Homo sapiens: one gene and its partners. The protein of the gene in region 1 purifies or fractionates together with the protein of each later gene. This does not show direct contact. Each region holds a gene or a part of one and is shown in the gene's direction. Other genes may lie near its edges.

What was found. The genes of interacting proteins can lie anywhere in the genome.
Region 2: the proteins of SLC19A1 (region 1) and ATP2B3 purify together in Homo sapiens (affinity purification with mass spectrometry; one large-scale study listed by BioGRID and IntAct). This does not show direct contact.
Region 3: the proteins of SLC19A1 (region 1) and GRK6 purify together in Homo sapiens (affinity purification with mass spectrometry; one large-scale study listed by BioGRID and IntAct). This does not show direct contact.
Region 4: the proteins of SLC19A1 (region 1) and ERLIN1 purify together in Homo sapiens (affinity purification with mass spectrometry; one large-scale study listed by BioGRID and IntAct). This does not show direct contact.

The regions. Positions count from the first base shown.
Region 1 is NC_000021.9:45,528,714-45,532,460, reverse strand, and holds part of SLC19A1 (reduced folate transporter), read left to right. Parts: intron 1-312; coding exon 313-1,072; intron 1,073-1,489; coding exon 1,490-1,691; intron 1,692-3,747. UniProt on the Homo sapiens protein: Antiporter that mediates the import of reduced folates or a subset of cyclic dinucleotides, driven by the export of organic anions.
Region 2 is NC_000023.11:153,579,859-153,583,499, forward strand, and holds the end of ATP2B3 (plasma membrane calcium-transporting ATPase 3), read left to right. Parts: intron 1-119; coding exon 120-440; 3' UTR 441-3,071; downstream 3,072-3,641. UniProt on the Homo sapiens protein: ATP-driven Ca(2+) ion pump involved in the maintenance of basal intracellular Ca(2+) levels at the presynaptic terminals. Uses ATP as an energy source to transport cytosolic Ca(2+) ions across the plasma membrane to the extracellular compartment.
Region 3 is NC_000005.10:177,432,999-177,436,745, forward strand, and holds part of GRK6 (G protein-coupled receptor kinase 6), read left to right. Parts: intron 1-148; coding exon 149-241; intron 242-348; coding exon 349-412; intron 413-537; coding exon 538-678; intron 679-915; coding exon 916-1,106; intron 1,107-1,903; coding exon 1,904-1,941; intron 1,942-2,033; coding exon 2,034-2,123; intron 2,124-3,074; coding exon 3,075-3,283; intron 3,284-3,394; coding exon 3,395-3,532; intron 3,533-3,747.
Region 4 is NC_000010.11:100,175,960-100,179,706, reverse strand, and holds part of ERLIN1 (erlin-1), read left to right. Parts: intron 1-459; coding exon 460-506; intron 507-1,512; coding exon 1,513-1,574; intron 1,575-3,636; coding exon 3,637-3,747. UniProt on the Homo sapiens protein: Component of the ERLIN1/ERLIN2 complex which mediates the endoplasmic reticulum-associated degradation (ERAD) of inositol 1,4,5-trisphosphate receptors (IP3Rs).

The DNA.
Region 1 (3,747 bases):
CTCTGTCCCAAGAAAGAGATAAAAATAGAGAAGCTTAGATGAACAGGCTTGTTAATAACGATTCCTTCTGTGGCCACTGCCAGCTTTCCGCAGGCGAACGCTCCCAGGCTGCCGGGACGGTCGGGAGCCAGAGGTCCCTGTTCAGAGAGGACGATGCAGTGGGACATGGGACAGGGGCGTGTTGGGGAGAGGGGTCCCACCAGGCAGTGTTGGGGCAGGAAGCCGTCAGCAGCCATCACCTCGGGCGGGCTGTGTCTGCCGCAGCGGCAGCATTGCTAACACCTGGTGGGGCGCACGCCCGCCTGTCCGCAGGTCACGAACGAGATCACGCCGGTGCTGTCGTACTCCTACCTGGCCGTGCTGGTGCCCGTGTTCCTGCTCACCGACTACCTGCGCTACACGCCGGTGCTGCTGCTGCAGGGGCTCAGCTTCGTGTCGGTGTGGCTGCTGCTGCTGCTGGGCCACTCGGTGGCGCACATGCAGCTCATGGAGCTCTTCTACAGCGTCACCATGGCCGCGCGCATCGCCTATTCCTCCTACATCTTCTCTCTCGTGCGGCCCGCGCGCTACCAGCGTGTGGCCGGCTACTCGCGCGCTGCGGTGCTGCTGGGCGTGTTCACCAGCTCCGTGCTGGGCCAGCTGCTGGTCACTGTGGGCCGAGTCTCCTTCTCCACGCTCAACTACATCTCGCTGGCCTTCCTCACCTTCAGCGTGGTCCTCGCCCTCTTCCTGAAGCGCCCCAAGCGCAGCCTCTTCTTCAACCGCGACGACCGGGGGCGGTGCGAAACCTCGGCTTCGGAGCTGGAGCGCATGAATCCTGGCCCAGGCGGGAAGCTGGGACACGCCCTGCGGGTGGCCTGTGGGGACTCAGTGCTGGCGCGGATGCTGCGGGAGCTGGGGGACAGCCTGCGGCGGCCGCAGCTGCGCCTGTGGTCCCTCTGGTGGGTCTTCAACTCGGCCGGCTACTACCTGGTGGTCTACTACGTGCACATCCTGTGGAACGAGGTGGACCCCACCACCAACAGTGCGCGGGTCTACAACGGCGCGGCAGATGCTGCCTCCACGCTGCTGGGTACGCATGCCCTGGTCCCCGAGGCTTCTTCCCGCAGAGGCTTCCCGTCCACCTCCGCCTGCCCCGTGGATCCTTCCCCCGGAGGCTCCCTCTCCCGCCCCCTGCCCCATGGATACCTTCCCCCAGAGGCTCTCCGCCACCTCCCCCTGCCCCGTGGATCCTTCCCCCGGAGGCTCCCCCTCCCCGCCCCCTGCCCCGTGGATCCTTCCCCCGGAGGCTCCCCCTCCCCGCCCCCTGCCCCGTGGATCCTTCCCCCGGAGGCTCCCTGCCACCTCCCCCTGCCCCGTGGATCCTTCCCCGGAGGCTCCCCGTCCCCGCCCCCTGCCCCGTGGATACCTTTCCTCAGAAGCTCCCGCTACCTCCCCCTGCCCCGTGGCCCCCCAGGGCCGCTGCAACGCCCCATCCCTCCCCTCTCAGGCGCCATCACGTCCTTCGCCGCGGGCTTCGTGAAGATCCGCTGGGCGCGCTGGTCCAAGCTGCTCATCGCGGGCGTCACGGCCACGCAGGCGGGGCTGGTCTTCCTTCTGGCGCACACGCGCCACCCGAGCAGCATCTGGCTGTGCTATGCGGCCTTCGTGCTGTTCCGCGGCTCCTACCAGTTCCTCGTGCCCATCGCCACGTGAGTTCCAGAAGGGTGGGAAGCCGGGGGCGGGCAGGCGCCAGGATCAAGCCCCGCGCTTCGCTGGGTGCTCCCACCTTCCTGCTGCGCCCCAGCGGCTGTGCCACTGCTGGCCCCGCCAGCCACCTGGAGCTGACCAGGGTCCCCACTTGCCTCTCCCTGGGACCTCGGGCGTCCCTTCCTGTGCCGTCTTGCTGCTCCCCCAGGCCCTCCACGCTCCTCTCTGAAGCCTGCTGGGCTCACAGCCTTGCCCTGCTCCCAACCCCACCCTCTAGGCCCCGGGCTGCTGAGACCCCATCCAGGCAGGAGCGGGAGCTTGCACCTGTGTGAGTTCATCCTCAGCTTACACTCACACCAGGCACTCACACCACACACACACCACACGCTCACACATGGACACACACACACTCATGAACACACCACATGCGCACAGATGGACACTCACCACACACTCATGAACACATACCACACGTGCACACATGGACAAACACACCACACTCACACATGGATATATCGCACATGAACACACCACACACACGGACACACACCATGTTCACACATGGATATATCACACATGGACACCCACTACACATGGACGCACCACACACACACGGACACACAATGCACACTCACATGAACACACCACACGCTCACAGATGGATACACCACACAGACACACCACACACGAACACACACCACATGCTCACAGATGGACACCCACTACACTCACATGAATGCATCACATACTTACACATGGACACACACCACACACACGGACACCCACCACACTCACATGAACACACTACATGCTTACCCATGGACACACACTACACACGGACACACACACACTCACAGGGACACACCACATGTTCACAGACACCCACCACACTCACATGAATGCACCATATGCTTACACATGGACACACACCACACAGACACACCACACACTCACATGGACACACCACACACTCACAGATGGATACACCACACTCACATGAACACACCACATGCTTACACATGGACACAGCACACATGGACATGCTACACGCTCAGATGGACACACACCACACGGACACACAACACATGCTCACACATGGACACACACCACACGTTCACACATGGACACACCACACGTTTACACATGGACACGTTCACACATGGACACACGCTCACACATGGAGACACCCACACATTGACACACTCCCACCACATACTCAGACCACACACACTGACACACTCAGACACTGACCCTGTGTGCTCACAGGGTCCTGCTCCCTGGACCTGCCCCCTCTTTCCTGCCCGCTGGGAGGACTTTGGCCCCAGCTCAGTACCCCTTCCTGGGCTTCCCCTCCAGGGTGGCCTCCGAGCCCTATCTCCCTCCCTCCGTGGGTCATCCCCCTGGGCCTTATGCTGGTCACGAGCCTGTTTGAGCTGAGAGCACCCTCCTGACCCTTGCATTGGGCCCTCTGTGTCAGTGGCCTCACCCCTGCAGCATCCTGCCTGGATGTGCCCGGCCCTGTACTTCCCCATCCTCCCCACATGCAGGCAGCAGTCTCCCGGCATGGGCAGCCCGGCCCACCCTTCTCTCCCGCCCCTGCCATACTCGGGGCCCCTTCTGCTCCTGTGTGGCCGCCTTCTCCAGGCTCCCCGAGGCCCACACTGGGCTCTTGCCGTCCCTGGCTCGTGAAGGCCCAGCGTGATCTTGCTTGGGCCCCCCCACTGACCTGCCAGCACTGTGGAAAGGGCCAGGGCCTCTGCCATTGTGCTGTCCCATTGCTGCAGCCAGGGGGACAACGCCTGAAAGGTTTTAGTTATAAAGTCATTGATGCCCATCGCAAAAAAATCCAACACGGTGCCGCAGCGTGCAAAGCAGAAAACTGCTGTTTGCTACGGGGAATCCCAGCATTTTCTGCTTGTCTGTGTTGGGTTGATGCCAGACACAGATGCAGATGGTCACTCACAGATGCAGGTGGTCACTCCCGGTCATGAGTGGTGGGCCTTACAACCCATCCCCAGTCTATGGGTAAAGTCACCATTTCCATTTTTCTTACACGAG
Region 2 (3,641 bases), on another chromosome or scaffold:
CGGCCACTGACTGTCTCCTTCCTTCCTTCCTACCTTCCTTCCACGTTTCCTTTCCTTTCCCTTCCTTTCCTCCCTCCCTGCTCCCACCTCGCGCCCTGTCCCTCCACCTCCCACTCCAGATCCGGGTGGTGAAAGCGTTCCGTAGCTCGCTCTATGAAGGCCTGGAGAAACCAGAATCCAAGACCTCCATTCACAACTTCATGGCCACGCCCGAGTTTCTGATCAATGACTACACCCACAACATCCCGCTCATTGACGACACGGACGTGGACGAGAACGAGGAGCGCCTCCGGGCCCCCCCGCCCCCGTCCCCCAACCAGAACAACAACGCCATAGACAGCGGCATCTACCTGACCACGCATGTCACCAAGTCAGCTACCTCTTCAGTGTTTTCCTCCAGTCCCGGGAGCCCGCTCCACAGCGTGGAGACGTCCCTCTAACAAGAACTTGTCTCAGCACATGCGCACACGCACACTCGGACTCACACGAAGTCACACGCACACATGCACGCACACACACATATGGGGACCTGCACACCTGCAAAACGAGGGAACAACTAAGGTGGCTGAAGACCTTTCTGGCAGGGCATTTGCAAGGACCCAAATCCATTCAACAAGGGTGCAGCCTGCCACAGGCTCCTCATCCGGACTGAGGAAGACGAGGACAGGGAGGAGGAAAAGGAGGAAGAGGAGGACAAAAAGGGGGAGGAGAAGGTTCTTCGTCCAAAGGAGGAAGGAGAAGAAGTAGAAAGTGCGAAGAGCTGAGTTCCCCACCTTTTTTTCTATTGATGCTTCTTTTTTAACAAACTACAGTTTTACCGTGTGTTTGCCATTTGAGCTGTGTGGTGGGCAGGGGGCTGGTTTGGGTTTATGGGGAGCTTTTGTTGCACCCATGCAGGGGCAATCAGATCAGCATCTTCATGCAAAAAAAAAAAAAAAGTTGAGTGCTCTGCAGGCCTGTGAAGGGTGCCACCTGAGGGAGCCGCCTGCAAGCGGCCCTGCAGCCACAAAGCAACCCGCCCTCTGCAAAAACTAGGCACATCCGCAGTGCGCATGTGTGTGCGTGCATGCACATATGTGTATGTGTGTGGATCTGTACACACACACGTATATATGGCCAGATGCGTATTTCAATAAGGAACTATTTACTGGCATGATATTTGCATTCCTCTTATCAGGCATTTTCATTTGGAAATTTCATTATTGAATGTAGCAAGGTTGTAGTTGTTTTTTTTTTTTTTTCAGGGAACTAGACTGCAAGAATATCTTTCTGGTCAACCCATTTTTGTCCCTCATCACCCCGCCCCCACCTTTCGCTCCTGCCCTCTGCCCGGCCCTACTGAGATTCCCAAGGAGAAGGCCGAGAGGGGGCGCTCCAGGTCTGGAGCAGGTATAATTGGAGCATTTGCACTGAGACCCCTGCCAGAGAGGAGAAAACCCTTTCAAGGGAAATTTTAATCTAAAAGGAAAAAACCAAAATATTGATGAGAAGGAGTCCTCCAGTTAGTGAAAGGGGAGTTTCGTTTTCAGCTTTCTTTGGTTCCTACTCCAATTCCACATCCTTCATCCTGGCCATGCCCCCACCTTCAAGAGCATGAAGCACTCTTGGAGTTGTGGGTCCTGCCCAGAGTCCAGAGAGCAGCCTCAGCTGAGCACAGGTCCGAGGGGGCGGGGGCAGGGCCAAGAGTTCAAAAGAAGCCAATGGAGGGAGAGGGAGCGTCAGAAGCCCGGAGGAGCTGGTGGTGGGAGAATGACGGCAGGGACGCAGCCACAGTTCAGACCCTGTCCCCTCAGCACCTGGATGGACTCCCACTGTTTGCTTTGGCAAATGCCGAGGAGTCCTCGGTAGACCACCTTGATGTCTGCTGTGACATCAGAGGTGCCACCACCAAAGCACTCTTCCCACCCTAGTCTTTGTGTCCAGCGGCCAAGCTTAAGCCATGAAGTCATGGATTTGTGGCTCAGCACCAGGTCCTGAGGGGAGCGTATCCTGGCAGTGTGGGCACCTGGTGGCCAAGCCTCAGTTTCCCCCAAATGAGCAAAGGGGATAAAGAGGGGCCCGACTTTTGCCACCCTCCTGAGGAAGCCCCTAGGTCCACACAGTGATGCCATGGGGGACCCTTGCCTTCCACACTTGCAGGTGTCACGTTTTGCAGGGAGGTGTTTGGGCCTTGGGCTCAGCCACTGGGAGACAGTTGGGACCTGAGGGACAGAGGATCGGAATGGAAACCACCAACGTGCACTGGCACCCTCAGAAGGCTTGTCTCACCTCCACCGGCATCCACACAAAACCAAACAGGAGCAGGCGTCATCCCCACTATTCCCATGAATGCCATGTCACCCCTGAGCAGAAGCAGTCAAATCTTGGGCAAAAGAATTTCGGTTAGAAAAGAAAATCCCACTTTAAAATGCCAGCTGCAGATAACTCAAAGCCATCCCTTTTTTCTAAAGGGCACATTGAGAATGTCACCCATTTGTAAACTGTTCCCTGATGTCCTTGTTTAAACGATAATAAGAAAAAGGGCAACTCCATTTGTTGAGGGTCTTTGTGTTCTTCAATGAGAAATCAAATTTGAGACGTTGAAATTGGAGCTGCGTGCTGCTGCACTCACCGGCTTCTTCTCACTCTCTGTCGTAGACACACCGATAGGACCAATGGCCAATAGATATTAAAAGCAAACCCTCACTGCTGCTGTATAAAGTTGCCTAATGTAAATGTCTATTGTTTAGTCCCTAGGTCACCTTTGTGCTGTGCTGTGGAGTTCAGAAACGGGGTACCATGACCTGGAATCTTTTGCTCTTGTTTTTGCAGTCTTCAAGGCTGGGGGCCCTGTCTCATTGGGAAGCCCCTCTTTATAAAGCATTATATTACTTGGAATGGCTTGGTCAACTGTGTTCAGTTCATAAATATGTTTTACATTTTTATCTGCCTGTTATAAAGATGAACAAAAAAACTTAATGAGAAAGATCACAGATACGTAATAATTTAAAGTCTGTAGTTGAATTTCCTAACTTAAAGAATAGACCAAAATTTCTGTGTATAAAAAAAAATGAAAGGCTCCTTACATCCTGGTCTGGGTAACGTGTGTGATTTATTATTTGGTGAATTATTGTGCAGAACAAAACAAAGGTGCCTTCATGCCTCTTTAACAGAGCTGGAGAAGCCCCGGGCAGGAGGGGCTTTCCCCTGGGTGTGCAGCAGCCTGGCCGGATGTGTATGCAGAAGAGGAACTTATGCTGGGATGTTAGGCCCCCAGTGGGAGGGGCTCCAGCTGCTGCAGGAGCCGCGGCTGTCTTGACTTGAAAGGGCCTCTAGTACACGGCGCGGTGGCTCAGTCCTGTAATCCCAGCGCTTTGGGAAGCCGAGGCGGGAGGATCCCTTGGGCCCAGGAATTTGAGGCTCCCCGACACACATGCACGCTCCCCACTTCTTTTATTGTGGTAGAACACAGATCACATAAAATGTACCACGTTCACCATTTGTAAGTGTGCGGCCCAGGGGCAGAAGCACATTCACGGTGCTGTGCAGCCATCACCACCGTCCAGCCGCAGAACTTGTTCATCTTCCCAAACTGAAGCTCTGGCCCCGTTCAACCCCAACTCCCCACCCCCCAGCCCCTGGCACCCAATCTTCTACTTTCT
Region 3 (3,747 bases), on another chromosome or scaffold:
GTCTCCCCGCTCAGGGGTTAGCAGGAGGACTGGCCGACGACGATACCTGTGGGCTAAGCCTGTACAGAACGGGAGGCCTGGCCCAGCAAGCCAAGAGCCTGAGGTGTCAGGGGCTGGCGGGTGAGCTGGGCCTGCCTTTCCTCAACAGGCTGACCCACGAGTACCTGAGCGTGGCCCCTTTTGCCGACTACCTCGACAGCATCTACTTCAACCGTTTCCTGCAGTGGAAGTGGCTGGAAAGGTGAGCTCCCTGAAGGCTGGGCCGGGACAGGCCAGGTCGCCGGGGTTCTTCATAGGCCTTGGGCTCTCCTGCTCAGCCAGCGTTTGCTTCCCCACCCCTTGCCACAGGCAGCCAGTGACCAAAAACACCTTCAGGCAATACCGAGTCCTGGGCAAAGGTGGCTTTGGGGAGGTGAGTGGCCAGGCCAGAGCCCCTGGGAGAGTGAATAGGGTGGGTGTGTTGGGACCTGGACCACCCCCTGGATGCCCAGCAATGGCACAGCTGGCCCCCATTCGCCCCTGTCTGTCTGGCCACAGGTGTGCGCCTGCCAGGTGCGGGCCACAGGTAAGATGTATGCCTGCAAGAAGCTAGAGAAAAAGCGGATCAAGAAGCGGAAAGGGGAGGCCATGGCGCTGAACGAGAAGCAGATCCTGGAGAAAGTGAACAGTAGGTTTGTAGTAAGTACAGAAGGAGACTCTCCCTTCCCCTTGGCCACACTGGCGCACCGACCGTCCCCACCCCCCAGGCCCCACCCTCCCATGTGGGATGCCAGGAAGGGCGGGTTTGGGGTGTTGACACCAGGCTTGGGGAGCAGGCTGGGCCCAAGGAGTGGCACCGAGAAGGCTTTTTTGGGCAGCCCTGCCGCCAAGCGCCCCGCAGCTCCTGCCTGAGGGCTCGGGTCCCCTCGGCCACAGGTGAGCTTGGCCTACGCCTATGAGACCAAGGACGCGCTGTGCCTGGTGCTGACACTGATGAACGGGGGCGACCTCAAGTTCCACATCTACCACATGGGCCAGGCTGGCTTCCCCGAAGCGCGGGCCGTCTTCTACGCCGCCGAGATCTGCTGTGGCCTGGAGGACCTGCACCGGGAGCGCATCGTGTACAGGTGGGGAGGGCTCGGCCACCCCAGGGGCTTAGTCCTTCCCTGCCAGCGACTGCAGCTGGGCCTGGACGGGGGTGGCCAAGGCTGCCGATCAGGCCAGACTACAGAAGGACATTGGTTTGGGGGCTGTGGCACCGGCTTAACTCACACGCCAGGCCAACCTGAGTAGCCCAGACCTAGGCTTTGGGCTCTGCTGGACCCACGGGGTATCCTGACTTTGTCACCCCTCCACCCCCCACCGTGTGACCTTGGGCCAGGAGCTCCCTGCTCCCAACACTGCTTCCTTTTCTAGGAAGCAGAGACTATAATTCCTACTTCCCAGGTTGTTAGAAGTAGGCCCAACTTCCTACTGGAGGGGCCCAGTGAGCTAAGTACAGAGTGCCTGGCACATGGGGCTGGGTAAGAGAGAACCCTGGCTCTGATTGTTGCCGACTTCCTGTGAACCTCACAACAGCCTAGTCAGGGGACGGATGAGTAGTCCCATTTGATAGAGAGGAAAGGCAGAGTCAGTCACCAAGGGGTGGAGACTCCTTGGTCTCCACTGGGGAGGCCCCTCCGGGGTGGAGCTGTCTTCCACTCATCTAGAGAGTCCTGGGAGTCCTGGCTCTAGATCCTTCCTCTGCTCCCTTGAGTCCGGGCTGTTGCCAGGGAGAGCAGGGCTGTCTGTCGCCCTGGCAGCAAATGAGTCTCGCACCTTGCTCCACACCTGGCCCCCGGAGGCGAGTGAGCTGGGGGGGCTGGCCCCTTCTGACTCCCTGGCAAACTGAGCAGCATCTGACCCTGCTCTTCTCTCTGCACAGGGACCTGAAGCCCGAGAACATCTTGCTGGATGACCACGGTGTGTAAGGGTGCCTGGGGTGGGTCAGGGTGGGGTGAGATGCAGAGGCCTGGCCTGTTAACGGGTCCACCTGTTTCTCCACCCACACTCAGGCCACATCCGCATCTCTGACCTGGGACTAGCTGTGCATGTGCCCGAGGGCCAGACCATCAAAGGGCGTGTGGGCACCGTGGGTTACATGGGTGAGTCTTCTCTGCCCGGCCCACTAGCCTCCTGGGTTCCCTCACTATCCACCCACCCAGCCACACCCACTTCTGTCTGGGAGTCTTCTCTCAAAAGGGGCCTCAGTAGAAAGGGCCCATGCCGATGCTCCTCTTCTAGAGGTTAGGAGACCAAGACTCAGCCGGGGCCGCACACAGTTGTGAAGCCATGTCGTTCATTTGCTGAATACTTATTAAACCCTGCTATGGCTGAGCCTGCAGGTGGCTACCGGGGGATGGAGGAGAGAGACCCAAACCTGTTTCCGTGGCCCCAGTCCCTGCCCTCCCTGTGCCCATCTGTGAGGGAGGCCAGTGGAGGGGCCAACATGAGGCCCCACATTCCACCTGGAGACCGAGAGACGCAGGAGGCAGAGTCCTGGCTCTGCAGGCTCCGCCTCTTGCCGGTTGCGTGGCCTTGAACCAGACACTCCGCTGCTCCCGGCCTCACTCTGCTCCACTGGAAAACACTCATCATACCTGCCTCCCAGGGCTGCCTGGAAGATGAAAAGGGAGAGTTCAGGGAAAACTCCCCACAGGGCTGCCCTGGCAGGTAGGAGGTATTCAGAAAATAGGAGTTTCCTTCTTCTCGCTGATATTAAATCCAGAAGTTGCAAAATGGTAGCCACATGGGCCCAATTTGGCCTACATTTGTGTTTAAGTCAAACTGTTTTTAGTAAGCCAGATGGTTTCACATACAAAATACAGATTTCTGACTTCTTGTGTAAAATCTGAAGACCCGGGGACCCTGGGCGCGGCCTCCTGCAGGGCCGTATTCACCCCGCTTGATGGGGCCTGTGCTCTCCTACTGGCCAAGGTCCCCCCTGGCCAGCGGGTGTGAGTGTATCCCAGACCTAACGTGCACTGGCGTTCCTGGGGCCTGAGGGTCCACTGCCCGCCTCCTGCCCAGCCCTAACTCCCATGCCGCCCGCCCAGCTCCGGAGGTGGTGAAGAATGAACGGTACACGTTCAGCCCTGACTGGTGGGCGCTCGGCTGCCTCCTGTACGAGATGATCGCAGGCCAGTCGCCCTTCCAGCAGAGGAAGAAGAAGATCAAGCGGGAGGAGGTGGAGCGGCTGGTGAAGGAGGTCCCCGAGGAGTATTCCGAGCGCTTTTCCCCGCAGGCCCGCTCACTTTGCTCACAGGTACGGCAGCTCACAGAAGCCTGGCCAGCCAGGGCTGGGGTGGATGCACCTTTCCCTCCCTCCCACCCACTCACCTGCCTGGCCTGCCTGGCCGACTCACCCCTGCCACAGCTCCTCTGCAAGGACCCTGCCGAACGCCTGGGGTGTCGTGGGGGCAGTGCCCGCGAGGTGAAGGAGCACCCCCTCTTTAAGAAGCTGAACTTCAAGCGGCTGGGAGCTGGCATGCTGGAGCCGCCGTTCAAGCCTGACGTGAGTGCAGCCCACTCCTGCTGAGGGCGGGGCCCAGCCAGGGCTGGGGCTCAGGGGCTCTTGTAGTATCAGCCAGGATGCTTCCAGTGCAAGTGGCAGAAAAAACAATCTAGTGGCTTAGCCACAGAAATAAAGATAATTCACAAAAAGGAAAAGCCCCAGGATGGGTCTGGCTTGTGGCATGCCTGGATGGGGCTTGGAGCCTCTGACAATGT
Region 4 (3,747 bases), on another chromosome or scaffold:
GGTGGGTGGATCACTTGAGGCCAGGAGTTCAAGACCAGCCTGGCCAACATGGTGAAACCTCATCTTTACTAAAAATACAAAAATTAGCTGAGCGTAGTGGTGCATACCTGTAATCCCAGCTACTTGGGAGGCTGGGGCACAAGAACCGCCTGAACCCAGGAGGCAGAGGTTGCAGTGAGCCAAGATTGCACCACTGCATTCCAGCCTGGGTGACAAAGCAAGACTCTGTCTCCAAAAAAAAAAAAAAATTGCTGTAAAATATTTTCTGTCTCAAGTCTTTCATTTCTACTAGAATACAAAAAGAAATGACTGTTCTGAGAGCTAATCTTTGGGAACTGAAATTGTGATGGATCTCTGCTGTACTTACTGTCAGCAGCTTTCCAGAGATTTGCCTCTGGTACCAGTAGTTTTTTGACAATGTGTGTCTTGAGTGTTGATGAGATATCTTTTCCTCCCTAGACAACACTACAAACTGATGAAGTTAAAAATGTGCCTTGTGGAACAAGGTAAGCTTTCTCTTTGCCTACGAGCCTCCCTTTAGCTCAGACAGAGTTTCTGTTCCTACAGCTATGATCACTTAGACATATCTCAAATAGGCATGATAGTTAACCCAAGGGGACTTCTGATCTGAGCATTGTTTGAGCAAAGGCCTATCTCCAAATAGGAGCTTTTCCATCTTAAGAACCATTATTGTTCTTATGGTATTATTGGAAAAAACTGGAGTTTTAGAGCAAGTAGACCTAACTGTGTATTAGCACTGCTGCATCTGCTTTATTGACTATTTTTTAAAGACTTTATTTTTTACAGCAGTTTTAGGTTCATAGTGAAATTGACCAAAAAGTACAGACAGTTTTTATATACCTCTTTCCCCAACACATTCCTTTATTGACACTTTAAAGCTTAGTTTCCTCCTTTATAAAGGCAGTAAAATCTACCTTGCAGAGTTGTTGTAAGGATTAGAATTACTGTATATGAAGTGCCTAACCAGAACTTGGCCCAGAATAGGTGCTTAATAAAACATAGTTTAAAATTAATCATCCCACCGTCTTCTCATCTGTAGTGTTAAATGCCATCTAATTTAGAGTTTCTGATTCAATAGGTCTGGGGTGAGGCCCGAGAATTTGCATTTCTAACAAAAGTTCCTGGGTGATGCTGATACTGCTGGTCTGAAGACCTCACTTTGAGAATTGCTGTCCTAAAGAGGTTTAGGGAAAGAAAGGCAAGCAGGGCCCAAATTATTTCTAGGGTATAATCACTGCATTGAATTGTATCAAAAGAAGAATGTGAAGTTCAAGGTATTTTTTAAATTACTTATTTTAAATGACTATTACAAGTGTAAAAAAGACATTGACATCTATAGAGGGACAGAAATGCTATGAAAAAGGAAGCGAACTCTTTCTGTGTTTTAAGTGAATATTAGTATGTTTCATTATCAGCTTCTCCCCAGGTCTATCTATAACTGTGTTTTATGGATTGCCTTTAGTAGTTCACACTTTTTTTCTTTGTTTTTAGTGGTGGGGTCATGATCTATATTGACCGAATAGAAGTGGTTAATATGTTGGCTCCTTATGCAGGTATGTTACCCATCTACCTGTGGTTTTTATAGTTATAGCCAGAGGATTTATAGCTGAGAGATTCTTTGAGGAATAGAAGGGTACTTTGAAAGTTTTATGACTTCATTGATCACTGATTAATAAATTTCTGGGGAATAGAGGCAAAAATAGGTCAGAAGTTCTGGACAGAGTTGACTTTCTGCAACTGTATGAGTTACTCTTCTCTGAGCTTAGTGTTTCTAAGAGCAAAATGGTCATTGGTTATTTCTAGAATAGGAAAGTAGTATTTTATCCAGTCAGGATGAGAGATAATTTCCTTGGGTGTTAGAAATCTGTAACTGATCAATTCCTTGGCCCACACTGATTTGCCATCAAAGAGAAGTATTTTCTAGTTGAGATTTGCTATAATTTGCAAAGCAGTCTGAAAGCCTTCAACGTGGGGAAAGCATTTTCTTGATAAAAGATGAAAACCTACAGGTATGGGGTGGGTAGGTACTGTTGTAATCAAAAACTTAATTAGAAGCCCTGAAGAAAGATATACCGTCTTATATGCATGCTTGTTAATAAAACTGGCATGTCTAGTATGTACAGAATATTGTGTTTGGCAAGAATAATTTGAAAAGATGAAATTACAGCCTTTGCCTTCAGGGGTTTTAATTTTACTTGAGAAGACATAATACAGAGCTAAAAAAGGATATATTGGGATGTAAGGTCATAATAAATTTCACATAACCGGTACAGGCACAAATAGTGAAAAGATTTCAGAGTAGAGAGCAGGCGTATTACTGTCAAGGGCATTTGGATTATATTTTTCAGAGAGTAAGCATTTTCCTTGTCTTTTTTTCCTCTCCTTTCCTTGATTACAAATCACTGGAATGGATTATGATTGAAAAAGGGAAGGGACTGATGATTCTTTAACCAGAGATTAAATAGGAAACTATTTAGATATAATTCATTTGGGAAATGATCAAGCAAATGATTTAGTCATTAAGTATTTATTAATGGCCTGTCCATTAATTTTTTTTCTTTTTTGAGATGGAGTCTTGTTCTGTCACCCAGGCTGGAGTGCAGTGGCATGATCTCAGCTCAGTGCAACCTCTGCCTTTTGGGTTCATGCAATTCTCCTGCCTCAGCCTCCCTAGTAGCTGGGACTACAGGTGTATGCCTCCACACCAGGCTAATTTTTGTATTTTTAGTAGAGACAGTGTTTCACCATGTTGGCCAGGCTGGTCTTGAACTCCTGACTCAAATGATCCACCCACCTCAGCCTCCCAAAGTGCTGGGATTACAGGCATGAGCCACCGCGCCCAGTCGGATTTGAAATCCAGTTGCATCTAATATCCCACATGGGAAGGCCAGTGGAGCAAATTCTTGGATCTGAAGACAGAAGTAGAAAGCAGCATGTTTTTGTAGATAAAGAACAGGTTCTGACGTGGTCTAGTATGTACCTTTTGGGCATTTCTAAAATTCTCTGTTTCTTAGTTTCCTAATATGCAAATTTAGGAGAATTCAGTGCTAATTTATGTAAATTACCTGATATAAAGCCCAGCTCAGTTAATGTTTTAACAACTTTAAAAAATTGCCTTTTTAAAAACGGTCTTTTGCAACTGCTTTCTTCTTTTATTTCTACTGTTCCTCAGTTTGCCTAGTCTCTCTTTACCTCTTAGCTAAACTTTTGCAGTAATTGCCTTATGCTTTCCCTGCCTCTGATCTTTATGCTTCTCAGTTCATCTTCACACTGCTGGCCAAAGCGTAAATCTGACTGTCATGCCCTTGCTTGAAACCTTTGATAGTTCCTTATTACCTCCAAAATAATGGATACTTTAGTGTGGACTTTAAAGTTAGCCCCTGTTTGATGGGCTAACCAGCAGGTGTTTGGCATTAGTATTACAAATGCAAGGGTATTTGGAAAATTGAGCACAAGCAACACATCAAGATTTGTTAGTTGTGGTTTTTGGTTTCACTATTTTGTTGGCACTTTTCCTCATGTGTAATATATCACCCTGACTTTTACCCTGGCTGAATTTGAAGGTACCTGTGTCATTGTTGGGTAAAACAAACATGGGTTGTACCTCTCCTTCAGTGTTTGATATCGTGAGGAACTATACTGCAGATTATGACAAGACCTTAATCTTCAATAAAATCCACCATGAGCTGAACCAGTTCTGCAGTGCCCACACACTTCAGGAAGTTT